Homo sapiens: one gene and its partners. The protein of the gene in region 1 purifies or fractionates together with the protein of each later gene. This does not show direct contact. Each region holds a gene or a part of one and is shown on either strand. Other genes may lie near its edges. The genes, in order: SLC25A26, MARCHF5 and OCLN.

The links.
Region 2: the proteins of SLC25A26 (region 1) and MARCHF5 purify together in Homo sapiens (affinity purification with western blotting; one study listed by BioGRID). This does not show direct contact.
Region 3: the proteins of SLC25A26 (region 1) and OCLN purify together in Homo sapiens (affinity purification with mass spectrometry; one large-scale study listed by BioGRID and IntAct). This does not show direct contact.

Annotation. Positions count from the first base shown.
Region 1 is NC_000003.12:66,374,446-66,378,098, reverse strand, and holds part of SLC25A26 (mitochondrial S-adenosylmethionine carrier protein), read right to left. Parts: intron 410-3,653; coding exon 292-409; 3' UTR 1-291. UniProt on the Homo sapiens protein: Mitochondrial S-adenosyl-L-methionine/S-adenosyl-L-homocysteine antiporter.
Region 2 is NC_000010.11:92,311,604-92,315,256, reverse strand, and holds part of MARCHF5 (E3 ubiquitin-protein ligase MARCHF5), read right to left. Parts: intron 1-3,653. UniProt on the Homo sapiens protein: Mitochondrial E3 ubiquitin-protein ligase that plays a crucial role in the control of mitochondrial morphology by acting as a positive regulator of mitochondrial fission and as an important regulator of immune response.
Region 3 is NC_000005.10:69,548,284-69,551,936, reverse strand, and holds part of OCLN (occludin), read right to left. Parts: intron 394-3,653; coding exon 352-393; intron 1-351. UniProt on the Homo sapiens protein: May play a role in the formation and regulation of the tight junction (TJ) paracellular permeability barrier.

The DNA of each region.
Region 1 (3,653 bases):
GCTCTAAAAGGCCTGGCCTCAGCATTACCAAACTTATTTATTAAGAGGTTCTGAGGAAATTGTTCAGAGTACCGCCACAGACCCCGTTTTCTTCTCTTAGCTCTCTGGCATACAGGCCAATGACTTCATACCAGCCAGCCTATACCACGGATGGCACAATCTCCATGCCGGTATCTTAGCACAACTGGTCTTCAGCACTGGGGCCTATAGTTCAGACAGCTGCTCAGCGGAAGAGGGTTTGCACTGCAGGCCCCTCTCTTGACAGAAGTGGAGGTGAGGCTTGTCTCTGCTTCAAGGACTCTTTCTGCCAACTTCCAACAGCAAGCTGTGCGTTCGGTCATAAGCCCCCAGAAAGATGAAACCTCCCAGACTGATGGCTGCCATTCGAGGGAAGACACCTGCAAATAATCTAGGGGAAAAAACAGGATTTTTAATGTTGTGCGTATTTTAAAAAAAGGTTAAATTCCAATACCCACAGCTTGCTCAGCTCAATACACCATGCTCATTAGTGGCTAACTACCAAACAGCTTGTGAACGCTCCCAAATAAGGCAAGTAATAGCTGTGTCCCAACAGTAGTTCTAAAACTTTCATGCCATTTTTCCCTTTGAAACATGAAATTGATTTTTTTTAAAAAGGTGTTAAAGAGCTGAATCCTAGGTAAGGCTGGAAGGCACTTCCAGCCCACACCTCTAAAGTGATCTCCAGGGGTTGCTCAGTGAAGAGATTTTTGGGCAATGCTGCCGCTCCACCCACTGACTCAGTTGCATTTTGTCCTTCGAGACCCCAAAACATGACGTCACGACAACGAGTTGAACCTCCATGGATTCCCTGTGTTCCTTTTCTGTCTAAAGGCATGAAAGGCAAATGGGCTGTGGCTGTGAAGGGGGCAGCATGCCTCCACCTGCACAGTCCCCTTGGTATCACAGAAGGTGCTGCTAACCAGCCAAGGTGCAATGTAGAATAATCAGAGCAATGCAAAGTAAAACTACAATGCCACGAGGATACAAATTGGGGATTCATTCTTTAAAACTGCCCCCCCTCCCCATACCTACTCAGATATTTGTTCAAAAATTTTCATTGTGGCATTGCTGATGGTGATATAAGTTATGGCACAGTATAAACATACAGTGGATGATTATGTAGCTGATAAAGATGAGGAAATCTACAGATGCCAACATAAAAAAATTACAAAACAGGTTTAAAAAACTAAGTCCAAGGACTATGATTCCATATCTAAAAGGCAAGCCAGGGATGTGTCTTAAGCCCTAAACTGAATGCCTGCTGCCTGTGGATTATAGGACACATTCCTGGCCCACGCTTCCATAACCTTTGAACCTTTTCACCAAGAGTACAGGCATGACTCAGAGATATTTCAAGTTTGGTCCCAGGCCAAGTTTGGCCACCATAATAGTGAATATTGCAATAAAGCAAGCCATTCAAATTTCTTCGTTTCCCAGGGCACAGAAAAGTTATGTTTCTACTACAGTCTATTAAGTATGCAGTAGCAATTATGTCTAAAAATTGTACATACCTTAATTTTAAAATGCTTTATTGCTAAAAAATGCTCATGAGCATCTGAGCCTGCAGTAAATTGTAATCTTCTGGCTGATAGAGGGTCTTGCTTTGAATGATGGCTGCTAACTGACCAGGGTAGTGGCTGCTGAAGGTTGGAGTGGCTGTGGAAATTTCTAAAAATAGTAATTGTTGCATTGATGGACTCTTCTTTTCATGAAAGATTTCTCTGTAGCACACAATACATTTTGCCCACAGTAGGACCTCTTTCAAAATTGGAGTCAACCGTCTCAACTCTGCCACTGTTTTCTCAACTAAATTGATGAAATATTCTAAATCGTTTATTGTAATTTCAACAGTGTTCACCGTATCTTCACCAGGAGTAGATTCATCTCAATAGATCACTTTCTTTGCTCACCCATAAGAACCAACTCCTCATCCGTTCAAGTTTGATCATGAGATTGTGGCAATTCTTTACATCTTCAGGCTCCACTTCTGACTACGGTGGTCTTGCCATTTCCAGTACATCTAGTATGTGTTTCCCTCCACTAGTCAGCCATGAGGATTGGAATCAACTTCTTCCAAAGTCCCAGCATGGTCAATATTTTGACCTCCTATGAAGCCACTAATGTTCTTACTGGTATCTAGAATGGTGACTCCTTTCTAGAAGGCTTCCAATTTACTTTGCCCACATCTAGCAAAGGAATCACTGTTGATGCAGCTGTAGCCTTATGAAATTTAATAAAACCTGAAAGTTAAAGTAACTCCTTGATCCACAGGCTAAGGAATGGATGTTGATAGTAGGCATGAGAACAACATTCATCTCCAGCAGAACTCCAGGGTGACCAGGTACACTGTCAATGAGCGGAAATATTTTAAAAGGAATCTTTTCCTCTGAGCACTAGGTCCCAGCAGTGGGCTTAAAATATTCAAGAAAGCATGCTGTAAAGAGATGTGCTGTCGCTCAGGCTTTGTTGTTCCATTTCTACAGCAGAGGCAGAGTCGATTTAGCACCATTCTTAAAGGCTCTAGGATTTTCAGAAGAGTCAATGAGCATTGGCTTCAACTTAAAGATACCAGCTGCATTAGCCCCTAACAAGAGAGTCAGCCAGTCCTTTGAAGCTTTGAGGCCAGGCATTGATGTCTCCTCTCTAGCTAGGAAAGTCCTAGATGGCATCTTCTTCTAATCGAAGGCTGTTTCATCTACCCTGAAAATCTGTTGTTTAGTGTTAGTGCCTTCATCGATGATCTTAGCTAGATCTGGGTAACTTGCTGCAGCTTCTCCATCAGCACTTGCCACTTCACCTTACACTTCTGTGTTACAGAGATGACTTCTTTCCTTAAACTTCATGAATCAACCTCTCCTAACTTCAAACCCTGCAGCTTCCTCACCTCTCTCAGCCTTCAGGGAAGAGAGTTAATGCCTTGCTCTGGATTAGGTTTTGGCTTAAGGGGATGTTGTGGCCGGTCTGATCTTCTATCCAGACCAAACTTTCTTCGTATGTGCAATGAGGCTGTTACACTTATCATTTGTGTATTCACTGGATAGCACTTTTCATTTCCTTCAAGAACTTTTCCTTTGCATTTACAATTTGGTTAACTGTCACAAGAGGCCTAGATTCTGGCCTATCTCAGCTTTCCACATGCCTTCCTCACTAAATTTAATCATCTCCAGCTTTTATTTTTAATTAATTAATTTTTTTTTTTGAGATAGGGTCTTGCTGTTACCCAGGCTGGAGTGCAGTGGCACGATCGTGGCCCACAGCAACCTCTACCTGCTGAGCTCAGGTGACCCTCCCACCTCAGCTTCCCAAGTAGCTGGGACTACAGGCACACACCAACATGGCCAGCTAATTTTTGTATTTTTTGTAGACAGGGTTTGGCATGTTGCCTAGGCTGGTCTTGAACTCTTGGGCTCAAGCCATCTGCCACCTTGGCCCCCCAAAATCCTGGGATTACAGGTGTGAGCCACCATGCCCGGCCCGAGTTTTTTATTTAAAATGAGAAAGGTGTGATTCTTCCTTTCACTTCAACACTTAGAGGCCACTGGAGGATTATTAATTGGCCTAACTGCAATATTGTGTCTCACAGAATAGAGGCCTAAGGGAGAGAGAGAGGGAATGGCTGGTTGGAGACACAG
Region 2 (3,653 bases), on another chromosome or scaffold:
AGTATTTTGTTTAATGGCTGCATGAAGCCACTAGCGTACAGAGTACGAATCAACTCTTAGTATATACGAATGTAACATGTTAATCAAGAAATACAAGCAACTTTTTAAAAGTTTTAGAAGAAGATATTTTCTTTTAACCAACAATTATTTTTGAAACTTGAATTGAAAAGTTGTGCTGGAATCAGCATAGCTAGAGCACTAGCTTTGTGTGCAGCAATGAAGAGCCCACCACCTGAAAGCCAATTCACACATGGCTTCATTTACAGACAACAGCTGGCTTGAGTCATTGTTAATAACTGCATGGAAAATTGTGAATATAATTAAAATTGCAGCCCTTGAATAGGTATCTTCAGCATGTTAAGAATGCAGCGGCAGGCTGGGCACACAGTGGCTCATGCCTGTGATCCTAGCACTTTGGGAGGCCAAGGTAGGTGGATTGCTTGAGCCCAGGAGTTTGAGACAAGCCTGGACAACATAGCAAGACCCAACCTCTATTGGCGGGGGGGGGCGGGGGGAAGCAGCAGCAGCAAATACTCTGTTTTTCTGTTTTGTCAAGAGGAAATATGCTAACAATACCTACTCAAATGAAGGATATACTTTTTTTTTTCTTTTTTTGAGACAGAGTCTTGCTCTGTCGCCCAGGCTGGAGTGCAATGGTGTGAGCTTGGCTCACAGCAACCTCTGCCTCCCAGGTTCACGTGATTGTCCTACCTCAGCCTCCCAAGTAGCTGGGATTACAGGCGCCTGCCACCACGCCTGGCTAATTTTTGTATTTTTAGTAGACACAAGGTTTCACCATGTTGGCCAAGCTGGTCTTGAACTCCTGATATCAGGTGATCCGCCTGCCTTGGCCTCCCAGTGTTGGGATTACAGGCGTGAGCCACCGTGCCCAGCGGATATTCATTTTTTTTTATAACACTGATGTCATTAAAACATATCTATGATTTTAAGCGGCTAACTCAAGTGCCATACCTCTATGACAGACAGTATAGTGACCAGCTTGAACATATCATTTGAGAGTAAAATTATAATTCTCTCTTTTATTTAAGATTGGTTTCACTCTGTCACCCAGGCTAGAGGGTAGTGGCGCAATCATAGCTCAATGCAGCCCCAAACTCCTGGGCTCAAGTGATCCTCCCAGCTGAGCCTCCCGAGTAGCTAGGACTTACAACAGGTGTGCTCCATCACACTTGGCTAATTTTTTTTCTTTTTCTTTTTCTTTTTTGTAGAGAGACAAGGTTTTGCTATGTTGCCTAGGCTGATCCTGACCTCGTAACCACAAGCAATCCACCCACCTGAGCCTCAAAAGTGCTGGGATTACAGATGTGAGCTACCATGACTGGCCACAATTCTTTTTTGTTGTTCAGACAGGGTCTCACTCTGTCTCCCAAGCTGGAGTACAGTGGCGCAATCACAGCTCACTGTGGCCTCCACCTCACAGGCTAAGGCAATCCTCCCACCTCAGCCTCCTGAGTAGCTGGGACTACAGGTGTGTGCCACCATGCCCAGCTAATTTTTTTTTGTTATTTTTGGTAGAGATGGAGTTTCACCCTGTTGCCCAGGCTGGTCTCAAGCAATCTACTCGCCCCAGCTTCCCAAAGTGTTGGGATTACAGGTGTGAGCCACTGTGACCCGCCACAATTTTTTTTTTTAGCACGGCGTCTCGCTCTATCTCCCAGGCTGGAGTGCTGTGGCGCTATCTTGGCTCACTGCAAGCTCTGCCTCCCGGGTTTACGCCATTCTCCTGCCTCAGCCTCCCGAGTAGCTGGAACTAGAGGCACCTGCCACCAAGGCTGGCTAATTTTTTTGTATTTTTAGTAGAGATGGGGTTTCACTGTGTTAGCCAGGATGGTCTCGATCTCCTGACCTCGTGATCTGCCAGCCTTGGCCTCCCAAAGTGCTGGGATTACAGGTGTGAGCCACCGCGCCCGGCCCGGCCACAATTCTTAGTAACAAAATATGCAGACTAAATAATGATACAAATGGCTTAACCAAAGAGTTTTACTCTTTTCTTTTTTCTTTGAGATGGAGTCTCGGCTCTGTCGCCCAGGCTTGTGTGCAGTGGCACGATCTTGGCTCACTGCAACCTTTGCCTCCTGGGTTCAAGCAACTCTTCTGCCTCAGCCTCCTGAGTAGCTGGGACTACAGGCACACGCCACCATGTCCAGCTAACTTTTGTATTTTTAGTAAAGACATAGTTTCACCATATTGGCCGGGTTGGTCTCGAACTCCTGACCTCGTGATCTGCCCGCCTCTGCCTCCCAAAGTGCTGGGATTACAGGCGTGAGCCGCCACGCCCAGCCAAGATTTACTCTTTTCTAACAACTAGGTAGACTTAAAACCATATTCAATTACTGCACTAAACCTGAAAACATATTTCCTAGAACTGAATTCAACCAAAAGGACAGATCTACACATTGCCATCTCCAAAATTAAAATACTCAACTTTGCTTTCGAGTGCCATACACTTGTCAACTTGATGTAGTTTTCAGTGAGAATTCTTGTAATAATTTTTGTGTCCATTTGAATATCTAAAACATCTAATAGAAATATTTAATTGTTGCTCTTCCCAACTCTATAATTCAAAGGTGGGGCTATCTAATTTAGTACAACTAAGAGCAAGAAAAGAAATCAGTTAAATATGAAACCTTAACTTGGACTTTAGTGAGTCTTTCACCATTCATGTGGTGGTACAATAATGTGAACAATCATTGCTTTTCCTGATACTGATTTAAAAATACTTCTTTGATCTTACAATAAAAACATTTTGAATTATTCTTTTGTGTTTATCTAAAATCAGTGGTATGCACTGAAGACCCATCACATGGTCCACAAATTCCAAATGTTTGAAAACACTACTTTCTCTACTACACTACTTCCCCTTCAAAGGAAGCTATCATTTCTTCCTGTGCATGTTAGAGAAAAACAGAGAACCAAGGACATTTTGTTTGCCCTTATTATTAATCTTCTCATATTAGAAAAGCACTTCATTATCTGCATTTATGTTGCCACATTTTCAAAAACATTGGTCTGATTTCAGTATGAATAGCACTTATAAAAAACAATATATATAATAATTATTTCCAATTTTTCCTGAATTCCCTCTGCCCCCAAAGACATTCTTTCCTTATGACCTTCCCAGAACCCAAGCTGCCTTCCTATACCTCTTGGTTACAGTCAAGGGTTATAAAAAAATGTTTAACAACTGGCATGGTATAAACACCAAACCAAGAGATTGACACCAATTTATAACTGTATGGCTGTAATGGAACAGGCTCACTAAATATCAGCCTTAGTTATACTGCTGCTAAAGAAGCAGCCTTAGAATGCTTCTTGTAAGCAGTCTGCTATACTTTTTTTCCATGCTAGGCCTGTTCTCAAAGATCTTTGGTTATTTCTTACCTGCCACTTCACAGAAAAGGGATAGCAGGGTTCATGAAAGAAACCACATAAATTGGATTCCAAAGATGAGTTTAACGTCACATCTTATTAAATATTTAATTTCTCTACTTTTATTCCTTAAAAGGAAGAATTAAGGAGAAGTATTAGAACATACTACTGCTTTCTTTCTCTTACACCGTCTCCAGATAATTAAGCTAAGTTAGTTTTTTTTTTAAAAGTCAGCTTTTTATTAGAGCTTTGTTATTCAATTA
Region 3 (3,653 bases), on another chromosome or scaffold:
ACAAAACTCTATGATGTTAGAAGTGAGCATGATGGACCCCTCTGGAGAGAGTGTAAACACTGGAAAGTAGTACAAGTGAGGGTGGGGGTGCTGGGGGTGGGGAGGTACTGGGAAATATATTTCTTGATCTGCATACGCAGGTATGTGGTCACATTGTGAAAATTCACCATGTTATACACTTTGATTTATACACTTTTCTGTATGTATACTTCAACTTTTAAAAAATATATAAAATAAAAAATGAAAAACATGTAATAGAAAAGCTCTTCCTCCAGATGAGTAGGTATGGGAATTAAAATAAAAAGAAGAAGAAAGAAAGTTCTTCCTAAAAGAACAATCTCGGATACTTACTCCCTTCACTTGCTTCAGTCTATTGTATTCATCAGCAGCAGCCTATTAACGACAGACACAAAGGAATATGTTTACTGGGGCATTTTCTCTTTTAAAAGTAACATTCCTGATGTTATACTTTGGAGCTAAAAATGACAGCTTATGACAAAAATATAAGCAATTAAAAGAATGAAGTCGTAAAGCTCTTAAAACTCATGATCAGCAGGAAGGTCTGAAGGAATTCAGTGAAGAGACATTTATGATACTGTATCTTTCACATTTCACTCACATAGGCAGGTAACTATCTGTTCTGCTACTTCTCATCTCTCCTCATGCCAGTCCCCATGCTACATTGACACCAGGAAGATCTTTTATAACACAGAGCGCTCGCTGATCAGGTAATATCCCACTACACAACTGGTCTGAGCTTCCCATTAACTTCTCCCCTCATCCAGTTTCCTACCTTTCCAGTCTCAGTACCCATCATCAGCAACTCCTTTAAAAACTGAGACATGTTAAATGCTTCAGGATTTCAATCATGTTTTCCTTATGGCTGTAATCATGCACCTCCCCGCACCCTTCTGTCTGGAAAGCTCTTAACGATTCCCTCACTGTGAAGCCTCCAAAGACTTTATTTCTTCTATGAGCAGTTAGTTATAGTGCTTTCTACACATGATGCAAATACAGCATTAATCATACTGTCTAAATTGTTTAGATGTCAGGTTTTTTTTCTTAAAATATAAGCTCTTTTAGGGTGGGGACAAGATTTTATGTCTCTAGCTCCAGCATTTCCACATCATCAAAGAAAAATAAGTGATCAATAAATGTTCACTAAATTAAGAAAGATCTATAACACCCTATAGAAACCATAAAAGAAATACATAAATCTAACTATATAAAGATGTGAATACGTCAAAACTAAAAAGTAGATCACCTCAACTGAAAAATGGCAGAATATTTAATGAGATGTGCATCAAATGAGTCCTGTATTGTATCAAGAGGGAGACACAGTTGGTGCAGTCTCTCTGGAGGGCAATTTTGCAACTTTGCAAAGGTACGTACCCTCTGACTCTCAGCAATTTCACATTCTGGAATTAGTTTTAGTTAGATAAGCAGGCTGGGCACTGTGGCTCACACACGTAATTCCAGCACTTTGGGAGGCCAAGGCAGGCAGATCACCTGAGGTCAGGAGTTCGAGGCTAGCCTGACCAACATGGCAAAACCCCGTCTCTACTAAAAATACAAAAATTAGTCAGGTGTGGTGCCACATGCCTGTAATCCCAGCTACTCGGGAGGCTGAGGCGGGAGAATCACTTGAACCTAGGAGGCGAAGGTTGCAGTGAGCCAAGATAGCGCCACTGCACTCCAGCCTGGGCGACAGAGCAAGACTCCGTCTCAAAAAAAAAAAAAAAAAAAAATTAGATAAGTAGACAAGAGTGCAAAAACAGAGAGGTTCACCAGTATATACTGGTACTACTGGAGTAGGGGGAGACATACTTAAATGTCTATCCATAGAAAATGACTCTTAAATTATGATACAACCATAAATTTGAAAGTTGTTTACCTAATTTTACACATAAAAAACTTAAAAGTAAGTAGGTCTTTATTATTGATATAAAAAAAAAAACTTGCTGTTAAGAAAAGCCAGAAATAAGCAGTGCAAGGAAGTTTTTTTGTTTGTTTTTTTTTTAAAGATAAAACCCCACAATAAGAGTATGTCAAAGGGACACGGGAAGCAACTGAAAGTTCCCAACCGTCAAAGCGAGAACAATTAGAGCTACAAAATAAAGCAGCCTTGGATTATAATTCACAGTATAAAACAGGTATCTGTAAAGTCCATACTTACGTAAGTGATTGACTGATCAATAAAGGAACAAATAAACAAGAAGAGATTAATCTCCCTCTAAAAGGTGGTGTAACTACATTAATTTCAGTATGTATACAAAATACAGTATGAAAAGGATGGATTGAAAAAAAAATCCAGTAACTTTACATGGACAAATTCTATCTCAGCCAGGTGATCAAGGGAGGGAAAAAAAAAACCCATAAACTGTTGATTTAAAAGACAGGAAGAAAATAAGTGAAACATGGAAGATGATGTTTCCTTAAAGAAAGGTGTATGTGCCTTGGTGACTCCTGCTTGGAGAGATTGTTTTAACTAATATTTTGGTGATAAGGATTTCTTGATGGTAGGATTTAAGATGATTTCTTTTTCTGTATACAGTTCTGTGTTACTTAAGTTCTTTTTTTTTTTTTTTTTTTTTTTGAGATGGAGTCTCACTCTGTCACTCAGGCTGGAGTGCAGTGGCGCGATCTTGGCTCACTGCAAGCTCCGCCTCCTGGGTTCACACCATTCTCCTGCCTCAGCCTCCCAAGTAGCTGAGACTACAAGTACCCGCCACCATACCTGGCTAATTTTTTGTATTTTTTTTTTTTTTTTAGTAGAGACGGGGTTTCACTGTGTTAGCCAGGATGGTCTCGATCTCCTGACCTCATGATCCGCCCACCTCGGCCTCCCAAAGTGCTGGGATTACAGGCATTAGCCACCGTGCCCGGCCGCTTAAGTTCTTTTCTACAGAAAGAATGAATGGCTTTATAAATAGGAAAGATAATAAGGCTATTTTATTATTATTATTATTAATTTTTGAGATGGAGTCTCACTCTGTCGCCCAGGCTGGAGTGCAATGGCGCAATCTTGGCTCACTGCAACCTCCCCCATCCCAGGTTCAAGCAATTCTCCTGTCTCAGCCTCCCCGAGTAGCTGGGATTACAGGTGTCTGCCACCATGCCCTGCTATTTTTTGTATTTTTAGTAGAGATGGGGTTTCACCATGTTAGGCACGCTATTCTCTAACTCCTGACCTCAGGTGATCCACTTGCCTTGGCCTCCCAAAGTGTGGGGATTATAGCCATGAGCCACCATGCCCAGCCTGGCTATTTTATTTTAAATAGGAAAGGATAGATGTACATAGAATAGTGCTTTGTAGGGGCTGGGCGCGGTGGCTCACGCCTGTAATCCCAGCACTTTGGGAGGCTAAGACGGGCAGATCACGAGGTCAGGAGATCGAGACCATCCTGGCTAACATGGTGAAACCCCGTCTCTACTAAAAAAAAAAAATACAAAAAATTAGCCGGGCGTGGTGGCAGGCACCTGTAATCCCAGCTACTTGGGAGGCTGAGTCAGGAGAATGGCGTGAACCCGGGAGGCAGAGCTTGCAGTGAGCTGAGATCACGCCACTGCACTCCAGCCTGGGCAACAGAACGAGACTCCACCTCAAAAAAAAAAAAAAAACAGAATAGTGCTTTGTAATTATTAACTATTAT